Linked DNA regions of Homo sapiens. The protein of the gene in region 1 purifies or fractionates together with the protein of each later gene. This does not show direct contact. Each region holds a gene or a part of one and is shown in the gene's direction. Other genes may lie near its edges. The genes, in order: SEMA4A and CNTNAP1.

What was found.
Region 2: the proteins of SEMA4A (region 1) and CNTNAP1 purify together in Homo sapiens (affinity purification with mass spectrometry; one large-scale study listed by BioGRID and IntAct). This does not show direct contact.

What each region holds. Positions count from the first base shown.
Region 1 is NC_000001.11:156,152,184-156,156,384, forward strand, and holds the start of SEMA4A (semaphorin-4A isoform 1 precursor), read left to right. Parts: upstream 1-1,401; 5' UTR 1,402-1,581; intron 1,582-2,364; exon of another isoform or gene 2,365-2,366; 5' UTR 2,367-2,395; coding exon 2,396-2,534; intron 2,535-4,201. UniProt on the Homo sapiens protein: Cell surface receptor for PLXNB1, PLXNB2, PLXNB3 and PLXND1 that plays an important role in cell-cell signaling. Regulates glutamatergic and GABAergic synapse development.
Region 2 is NC_000017.11:42,692,337-42,696,351, forward strand, and holds part of CNTNAP1 (contactin-associated protein 1 precursor), read left to right. Parts: intron 1-162; coding exon 163-384; intron 385-960; coding exon 961-1,200; intron 1,201-3,184; coding exon 3,185-3,538; intron 3,539-3,688; coding exon 3,689-3,816; intron 3,817-4,015. UniProt on the Homo sapiens protein: Required, with CNTNAP2, for radial and longitudinal organization of myelinated axons. Plays a role in the formation of functional distinct domains critical for saltatory conduction of nerve impulses in myelinated nerve fibers.

The sequences.
Region 1 (4,201 bases):
GGGAGGGCTAAAGCCTGATAGTGTGAACTATTCATATTGGCTAGAGGGGCTGGGGAAGAGGACGTCCGGAGTTGGGAGAATTCTGGATGTCTGGAGGAAGAACTGGGGGCAGGGCATGGAGTCTATGACTTCCAGAAAGGTGGGAATAGGACATCAGGCTGGGAGTGTAGGGCTGGAACTCCCCCAGCCTCCCCGTATCAGAACTCTTCCCAGTGACCCAAATGAGCCAATCTGTTTAAGCAGAGAGGCCCAGGGGCAGACTGGCTTCCCAAATCTGAGCTGGGGGTTGGGGAGACACAGAAGGTAGGGTCTGGATAAATGGGAGTTTCTCTTGATTCTAAGAAACTGGAAGGGACCTGGCAACCAGCCTCTGGGAGAGTCTGGGGGAGTCCTAGGCAAGTCTTGACAGAAACGATTGTCAGGCAGGATATGTCTGAGACCAACCCCCGGGGAAACTGAGAGAGATGAAAGAAGGCTGAGTACCTCAGATGAGGAATTATAAGGAGTAGCCTGAGCTGTAACATCCCCCATGTTGGCTGGTGCTGTAGCAGGAGGGATGGAAGTTACACTACAGGAAGGACTTCCTGCCAGGGAGGAATGTGCATGTCAGATGGAAGTGGATTATTTATTAGAGTTGGATTAGCCCTGGGATGTCTGTGCTCTTTAACCTGCAGTCAGCTGACCATGTCGAGTGGGCAGGAACCTACCCACTTTGTAGGCCACAGAGTTCTTGGCGCTGGATGCCTCATTAACCCCGCGTTATGAGGCTCCCCCTGGAGCCTTTAGGGAGGGGTGAGCAGCCACCTTTGGGGGTTGGGTGCCTCCAAAGTGTGGTCCAGTGAGCACGAGTTCAGATGGGAAATGTTCTGGGCTTTCTACTGGCCTGATTTCTGGGCTTCCTATTGGCCTGATGTCAAAGAGTGATGGAGATTAGACTGCAAGGGGGACTTCCTCAGCAAAATCATGGATAAGAGCCTAATACAATTATTTTATTTTATTTTTTTAAAGACTGTGGCCCAGCTGAGAGTGGGAGGTTTAAAGGTTAGACCACTGCAGGGACTTCCCAGTAGGTAGGAGTAGAGAGACCCCACCTTGTGGGTAAGTGAAAAGAAGAATATGTCATGTCCCCTATCTGGGAAATCTTAAGCAAGAGAAGAAACCACTGCTAGGCTGGTTATACTGGCTGTGACATGATGGAGAGGCAGGGGAATCGCTGAAATGACCTAGAAGGGCCTCTTAAACTTTCTGGTTGGACCGAGCAGAGGAGGGAGAGAGAGGTGTGTCTCTTGTGAGGTGGGTGAACGTCTTTTTATTCCCTCCCAATCCACCAACTTCCGCCCAAGCCAGGATCTGTCACAACTCGAGAGGTGGAAATTCCGGTTTCCCTGGCCTAGAGCTCCCAGTGCTGGCTTTGGCATGATGGGCACCTGGAGGGCCGCACTCCCGTTCCAGCCAGGCTGAGCCTTCTGTCCCCTGCCTCTGGGGCCTGGGAACCCCCCTTCTTCTTTCTCCTGAATGGCACCCCCGCCCTAGAATCCAGACACCGAGTTTCCCACTGTGGCTGGTTCAAGGGTATGTGAGGTGAGATGGGTGGCTTGGGGTGGGTGGTCTTGGGGAAGATTATGTAGAGGCCCAGGGAGGCAGACACAGGAGCAAGAGACAAGGGGGCCGGGGAGCTGCAGAGGCTGGGAGCCGGCCAGCCACCCCTGCCCAGGCAGCTCCCCGGGAAATGCTGATAACCAACCTGGTGGGATGGACCCTCATTGCCTCCCTGGAAGTATCAGGCCAGGCAGGCCTGAGCCTCAAAGACCCTGAACCCAGCTGGGGCTGGGGGAGAGGTTAGAGCAGGCAGACTCAAACCCAGTCTGCCTACCTGGGTCAGAGCTGAGTATGAGGCACAGGTGTCAACAGATCTGAAAGTGACAGGAGAGTAAGGTCTGAGGAATTTATATTTTGGGTACAGGAACCTGCTCCCCAAAATGTTCCCTGCCCAGAGCCAGGCAACGGTTTGGGCTTGGGCTATGAGAAGAGGGAAGGCAAAGGAGGAAAGACAGGAAAGACTTCCTGAGAGTAAGGCAAAAAAAGGCAAACCAGAGCTGTTGGTGAGAAGACAACAGAAGAAGCAGGATAGGGGAGACCTGGGCTCCTACCCATAGGGGACAGTGAGGTGACAGGCTGAGGCCTGGAAGGATGATGAAAGTGAGACCGTCTTAGGGCCCTTCCAGATAGGGAACCTTCTCTGCCCCAATGCCCCACCCCTGCCACCAATACACACGCTTCTGCTGCCTGGGGCTCTCCTATTGGTCCTCGGGGGGATGTGGTAAGAACTGCTCACCCAGAAAGTGCCCGGGTGCCTGTTTCCCCAGAGCTCCCTGGTGACAGTCTGTGGCTGAGCATGGCCCTCCCAGCCCTGGGCCTGGACCCCTGGAGCCTCCTGGGCCTTTTCCTCTTCCAACTGCTTCAGCTGCTGCTGCCGACGACGACCGCGGGGGGAGGCGGGCAGGGGCCCATGCCCAGGGTCAGATACTATGCAGGTAAGTGTCCGACAGCAGGAAGTGTGGGGATAGCAATAGAGAGCTGGAGGTGGGTGGAGGAAGGAGAGAGGAACAGAGGAGGGGAGGAAATGGATATGGAGAAACAGGGACACAGAGAGAGATGCCAGGGAGAAACAGAGGATCTCGGAGAAAGAGAGACACAGCCAGAAACAGAAGTCCAAAAGGAAAGAAAAGCCACTGGAGAGCAGATTGAGGAAAACAGGTGGCCACGGGGCCAGGGGCACGCTTCTTCCAGTTCTCCATGTTGGTAATTTTTCTTTCCTTCCTTAAATATCACTGTCACCAAGCTGGGCACCTCAAACTCCTAACTGCTTCACACTCCCAGGTACCCCAAAGTCAAGGCCCATGCTAGAAGACCATATGTGGACCCGGTGACCCGGAGCTCGCCAGGCCCATGCCAACCACATAGATCATGCTGGACCATACCATGTCCAGGACCATGGGATGGCTGGTTGGAGAATGGGCCCTGGAACCCACACACAAGCACAGCTTGGCTGGTTTCTTACTGAGACTGTGGAGGCTGCTGGCCCCCTCACCTCCAGGGAGAAGACTCAGGAAAGGATGTAGACACTGTAGGAGTTGTAGGTGACTGGGCATGGCTGTGTCTTTAGCATCTTTCTGGGGCAATTGGTAAAAGAAATGTATATTGCTCATTGATGCAGAGACCTCCTCTGTGTTGGATGCTGGGCGCACAAACACGGATAAGCCTCAGCCCCTGCCCTCAAGGTGTTCACAGTCACAAGGGGGAAGACATGAGCAATCAGACCATCAATACAGGGTGATCTGTTCAGCAACTGAGGGGTTTATGGCAGCTCTGGGGGAGGCCTGGCCTCCAGGAGATGCTCCTCCCTGAGGCTGGCCCTTCCATCCCGCAGCCACACCAGATTCCCCAACTTCTCCCCTCTGTACTGTGTAAGATTCCCTGAGCCTGCAAAGGTATCAATTAGCTAGTCAGCTTTCTAACTAATGCAACAGTGCAAGTGCTAATGAGAGAGGATCTGAGGAGCTCCTTCCTCCTTGCCGATGTGCCAGTGGGACAGGAAAATACACCCCCACCCACCCCACCATGCCAAGGTCATGGAGAGGACCTAGGTGAGCCTCCCACACCTGGCTCACCATCCCTGCCCAGGGGACATCCAGCCATGCCCACATGGATCTTTGAAGAAAAATGCTTCCTCTCTGTTCGTGGTGACTCTACTGGTGGGAATTTCCTTTAACAGAAGAGGAAGAAAGCAGGGGTGGTTGGGGGGATGGCGAGAGGGACTCTGACATACGCCCTCCTGTCTGCATATAGCTTTGCTGCTTGTGGCTGCCAACACTTTCCTGTTTGTCTGTCTGCCTGCTGCTCCTCATCCTAGTGAGGACCAAGGCGTCCTCCCCGACGGTAGCCCTCCCTGTCCCAGGCCTGGAAGAGCATCCACTGTGCCTCACTTTATTTCCCGTCCCCATTACCCTGCCTCTGGCTGCCTCTCCTCTCTACTGCGGGCTCAGCACACAACGCTCTTGTGTTGGGGTGGGGTGAAGGGAAGAACTGCTGGTGGAGGAGAGTGCATCTAGCTGCCAAGGCCTGGGGAGCACACTCAGGCAACCCTTCCCCTTCCCCCACTTTTATCTCAGGAGTCAGCTGCCTGCCCACCAAGTCCTCA
Region 2 (4,015 bases), on another chromosome or scaffold:
TTTTAAGCAGCTGGTAAGTTTCAATGCAAGCTACAGACAAATTGGAGGGATATTCAAGAAGCTCCAAAGAGGTGAGGGAAAGAGGTTATATTGGGCAAGGATCTATGAAGGGTCTTGTAGGTCTGAGTCCTTTTCTCCCCTACCCTGCATCACACTGTCCAGCATCCCGGGATGTGGTCTTCGCCTTTGATGTGGGGAATGGGGATGAGAACCTCACAGTACACTCAGACGACTTTGAGTTCAATGATGACGAGTGGCACCTGGTCCGGGCTGAAATCAACGTGAAGCAGGCCCGGCTCCGAGTGGATCACCGGCCCTGGGTTCTGCGGCCTATGCCACTGCAGACCTACATCTGGATGGAGTATGACCAGCCCCTCTATGTGGGTAAGCAGCAACCCAGAGGCAAGTCTGAAGCCTCCTTTACCTCCCCATCCTCCAAGGCCACTCGCCTTGTTTCCAGGAGCCTCCTGTCTTAGGTGCCAGTCCCCTCTGCTTCAGAGCAAGCCAGTGTCTCACTTGTCCCTCCAGGCCTTTGTATCCTATTCTATTCTTCCAGCCCTCTTGGCTCCCTTTCCAACTACAATACTTCATCCTGTCTCTGGCTCTGCCTCCATTTCTTTTCTTTTTTTTTTTTTTTTGAGACGGAGTCTCGCTCTGTCACCCAGGCTGGAGTGCAGTGGCACGATCTCGGCCCACTGCAAGCTCCGCCTCCTGGGTTCAAGCAGTTCTCCTGCCTCAGCCTCCCGAGTAGCTGGGACTACAGGCGCCCGCCACCGTGCCCAGCTAATTTTTTTTGTATTTTTTAGTAGAGACGGGGTTTCATCATGTTAGCCAGGATGGTCTCGATCTCCTGAGCTCGTGATTCGCCCGCCTCGGCCTCCCAAAGTGCTGGGATTACAGGCGTGAGCCACCGCGCCTGGCCCTGCCTCCATTTCTTGACCTGTTGCCTACCCTTCCCAGGATCTGCAGAGCTTAAGAGACGCCCCTTTGTGGGTTGCTTGAGGGCCATGCGTCTGAACGGAGTGACTCTGAACCTGGAGGGCCGTGCCAATGCCTCTGAGGGTACCTCACCCAACTGCACAGGCCACTGTGCCCACCCTCGGCTCCCCTGTTTCCATGGAGGCCGCTGCGTGGAGCGCTATAGCTACTACACGTGTGACTGTGACCTCACGGCTTTTGATGGGCCATACTGCAACCACGGTAAGTGCTGCTGGTTATGGGGCAACAGGGAGCCATAGGGTGTAATGGGATGTAGGGAGGGCAGGGAAGGAAATAGCATGTAAAGCCCATATCATGGAAAATTAGAGTTGTCCCTGGATTCCTGAGCTCTGAGTTTGGGGAGTTAGGCAGTTGAAGATCATGGGTGACTCCAAAGGCATGGACAAGGAAGGGATGGTACAGATAGCTGGTGCAAAAATATCTCAAAATCACCAAGTATGCTTTGGGAGCCCAAGGTGGGAGGATTGCTTGAGGCTAGGAGTTCGAGACCAGCCTGGGCAACATGGCAAGACCCTGTCTCTACAAAAAAAATTCTTTTTTTTTTTATGAGATGGAATCTCGCTCTGTCACCCAGGCTAGAGTACAGTGGCACGATCTCGGCTCACTGCAACCTCCGCCTGGTTCAAGCGATTCTTTTGCCTCAGCCTCCCGAGTAGCTAGGACTACAGATGTGCACCACCATGCCTGGCTAATTTTTGTATTTTTAGTGGAGATGGGGTTTCACCACATTGGCCAGGCTGGTCTCGAACTCTTGACCTTGTGATCTGCCTGCCTCAGACTCCCAAAGTGCTGGGATTACAGGCGTGAGCCACCGCGTCTGGCCAAAATAATTTCTTTTTTCTTTTTTTTTTTTGAGACTGAGTTTCACTCTTGTTGCCCAGGCTGGAGTGTAATGACTCGATCTCGGCTCACTGCAACCTCCACCTCCCGGGCTGAAGCGATTCTCCTGCCTCAGCCTTCCAAGTAGCTGGGATTACAAGTGTGTGCCACCACACCCGGCTAATTTTTGTATTTTTAGTAGAGATGGGGTTTCACCACGCTTGCCAGGCTGGTCACGAACTTCTGACCGCAGGTGATCCACCCACCTTGGCCTCCCAAAGTGCTGGGATTACAGACGTGAGCCACAGCGCCTGGCAAAATTTTTTAATTAGCTGGGCATGGTGGTGCACACTTAGGCCTAGCTACTCGGGAGGCTGAGGTGGGAGGATCACTTGCACCTAGGAGGTCAAGGCTGCAGTGAGCTATGATCGTGCCACTGCACTCCAGCCTGGGGGGCACAGCAAGGACTGTGTCTACAAAAAAAAAAAAAGCAAATCGCTTCTCCATCTTCCCACCATCACCATGGTAACACAGGCGAACTCCCTTGTCAATGTATTTGATGATTGCTGCATTCCTAAAACATGTCAATGACCCAGTTCTTGGTTAAGGTGAGCCTTGACATTCCCCATAGCAAGATCCTACACACATGCCAAGACTGCATCCTCCCTAAGGCTGGCCTATAGGGAGGATATATGAGCAGGTGGGTTACTGGTGGGAGGAGTGTGGGGGACTAGGGAGATACAAGACTTAGGGACCAACAGATTTCTGGTGGTGGTTTGGAAGTGTGAGTAGTGGCACATATACTACATGGGGTCAGGATATCCCCATCACCCAGGCTGGAGTGCAGTGGCATGATCTTGGCTCACTGCAACCTCTGCCCCCTGGGCTCAAGCAATTCTCCTGCCTTGGCTTTCCTATAGTAGCTGGGATTACAGGCATGCACTACCACACCTAGCTAAGTTTTGTATTTTTAGTAGAGATGGGGTTTTGCCATGTTGGCCAGGCTGTTCTCGAACTCCTGACCTCAAGATGATCTGCCTGCCTTGGCCTCCCAAAGTGCTGGGATTACAGGTGTGAGCCACTGTGCCTGGCCTTACTGCGTGTCTTTAAGCAAGTCACTACTCATCTCTGAGCCTGTTTCCCCATTTGTAAAATGCAGGGGTTGGATCAGATGATCTCCAGTTTCCCATGGCTGTAAGATTCTGTTCTGTGACAGAGGGGCTCAAGGGGACCTAAAAGTAAATGGAGGGTTGTGAGGGTGGCAGAAACTGAAGTAAGTCTCAGGATGTGTGTATGGATGACATAAAACCTCTGAATTGGGGAGTGAGCAGTGTGGGGGCCCTAACCTCCCTGCTTCTACCTGCAGATATTGGTGGTTTCTTTGAGCCGGGCACCTGGATGCGCTATAACCTACAGTCAGCGCTGCGCTCTGCAGCCAGGGAGTTCTCCCACATGCTGAGCCGGCCAGTGCCAGGCTATGAGCCTGGCTACATCCCGGGCTATGATACTCCGGGCTATGTGCCTGGCTACCATGGCCCCGGGTACCGCCTGCCCGACTACCCCCGGCCTGGTCGGCCTGTGCCCGGTTACCGTGGGCCTGTCTACAACGTTACGGGAGAGGAGGTCTCCTTCAGCTTCAGCACCAGCTCCGCCCCTGCTGTCCTGCTCTACGTCAGTTCCTTTGTTCGTGACTACATGGCTGTGCTCATCAAGGATGATGGTAAGCTCTCCCGGGCTCTCTCACCCCACTCCAGCTTCACCCCGGTGCCCCTAATTCTCCTATTGATTCACAAATACAAGGACCCACGTGCTGTTAGAAGATAGGAGTCATGGGGCCTGAGACCCCAAATTTCTTCTCCCCACCCCACAGGGACCCTTCAGCTGCGATATCAGCTGGGCACCAGTCCCTACGTGTACCAGCTAACCACTCGACCAGTGACCGATGGCCAGCCCCATAGCATCAATATCACCCGTGTTTACCGGAACCTCTTCATCCAGGTATGCATAGAGGGAGGTGAGCCAGTTCAGATCATAACCTCATGGTCTCCGTTGTGGCATCCAGGAAAACATCAAATACTTAATATTTGTAGATCACATTTGAATGTATAGAGGATTTTCACGTGTGTCACCTCATGTAACCCTCACAATAGCTCCAAGGGGACAATAGGCATTTTTTTTTTTTTTTTGAGATGGAATT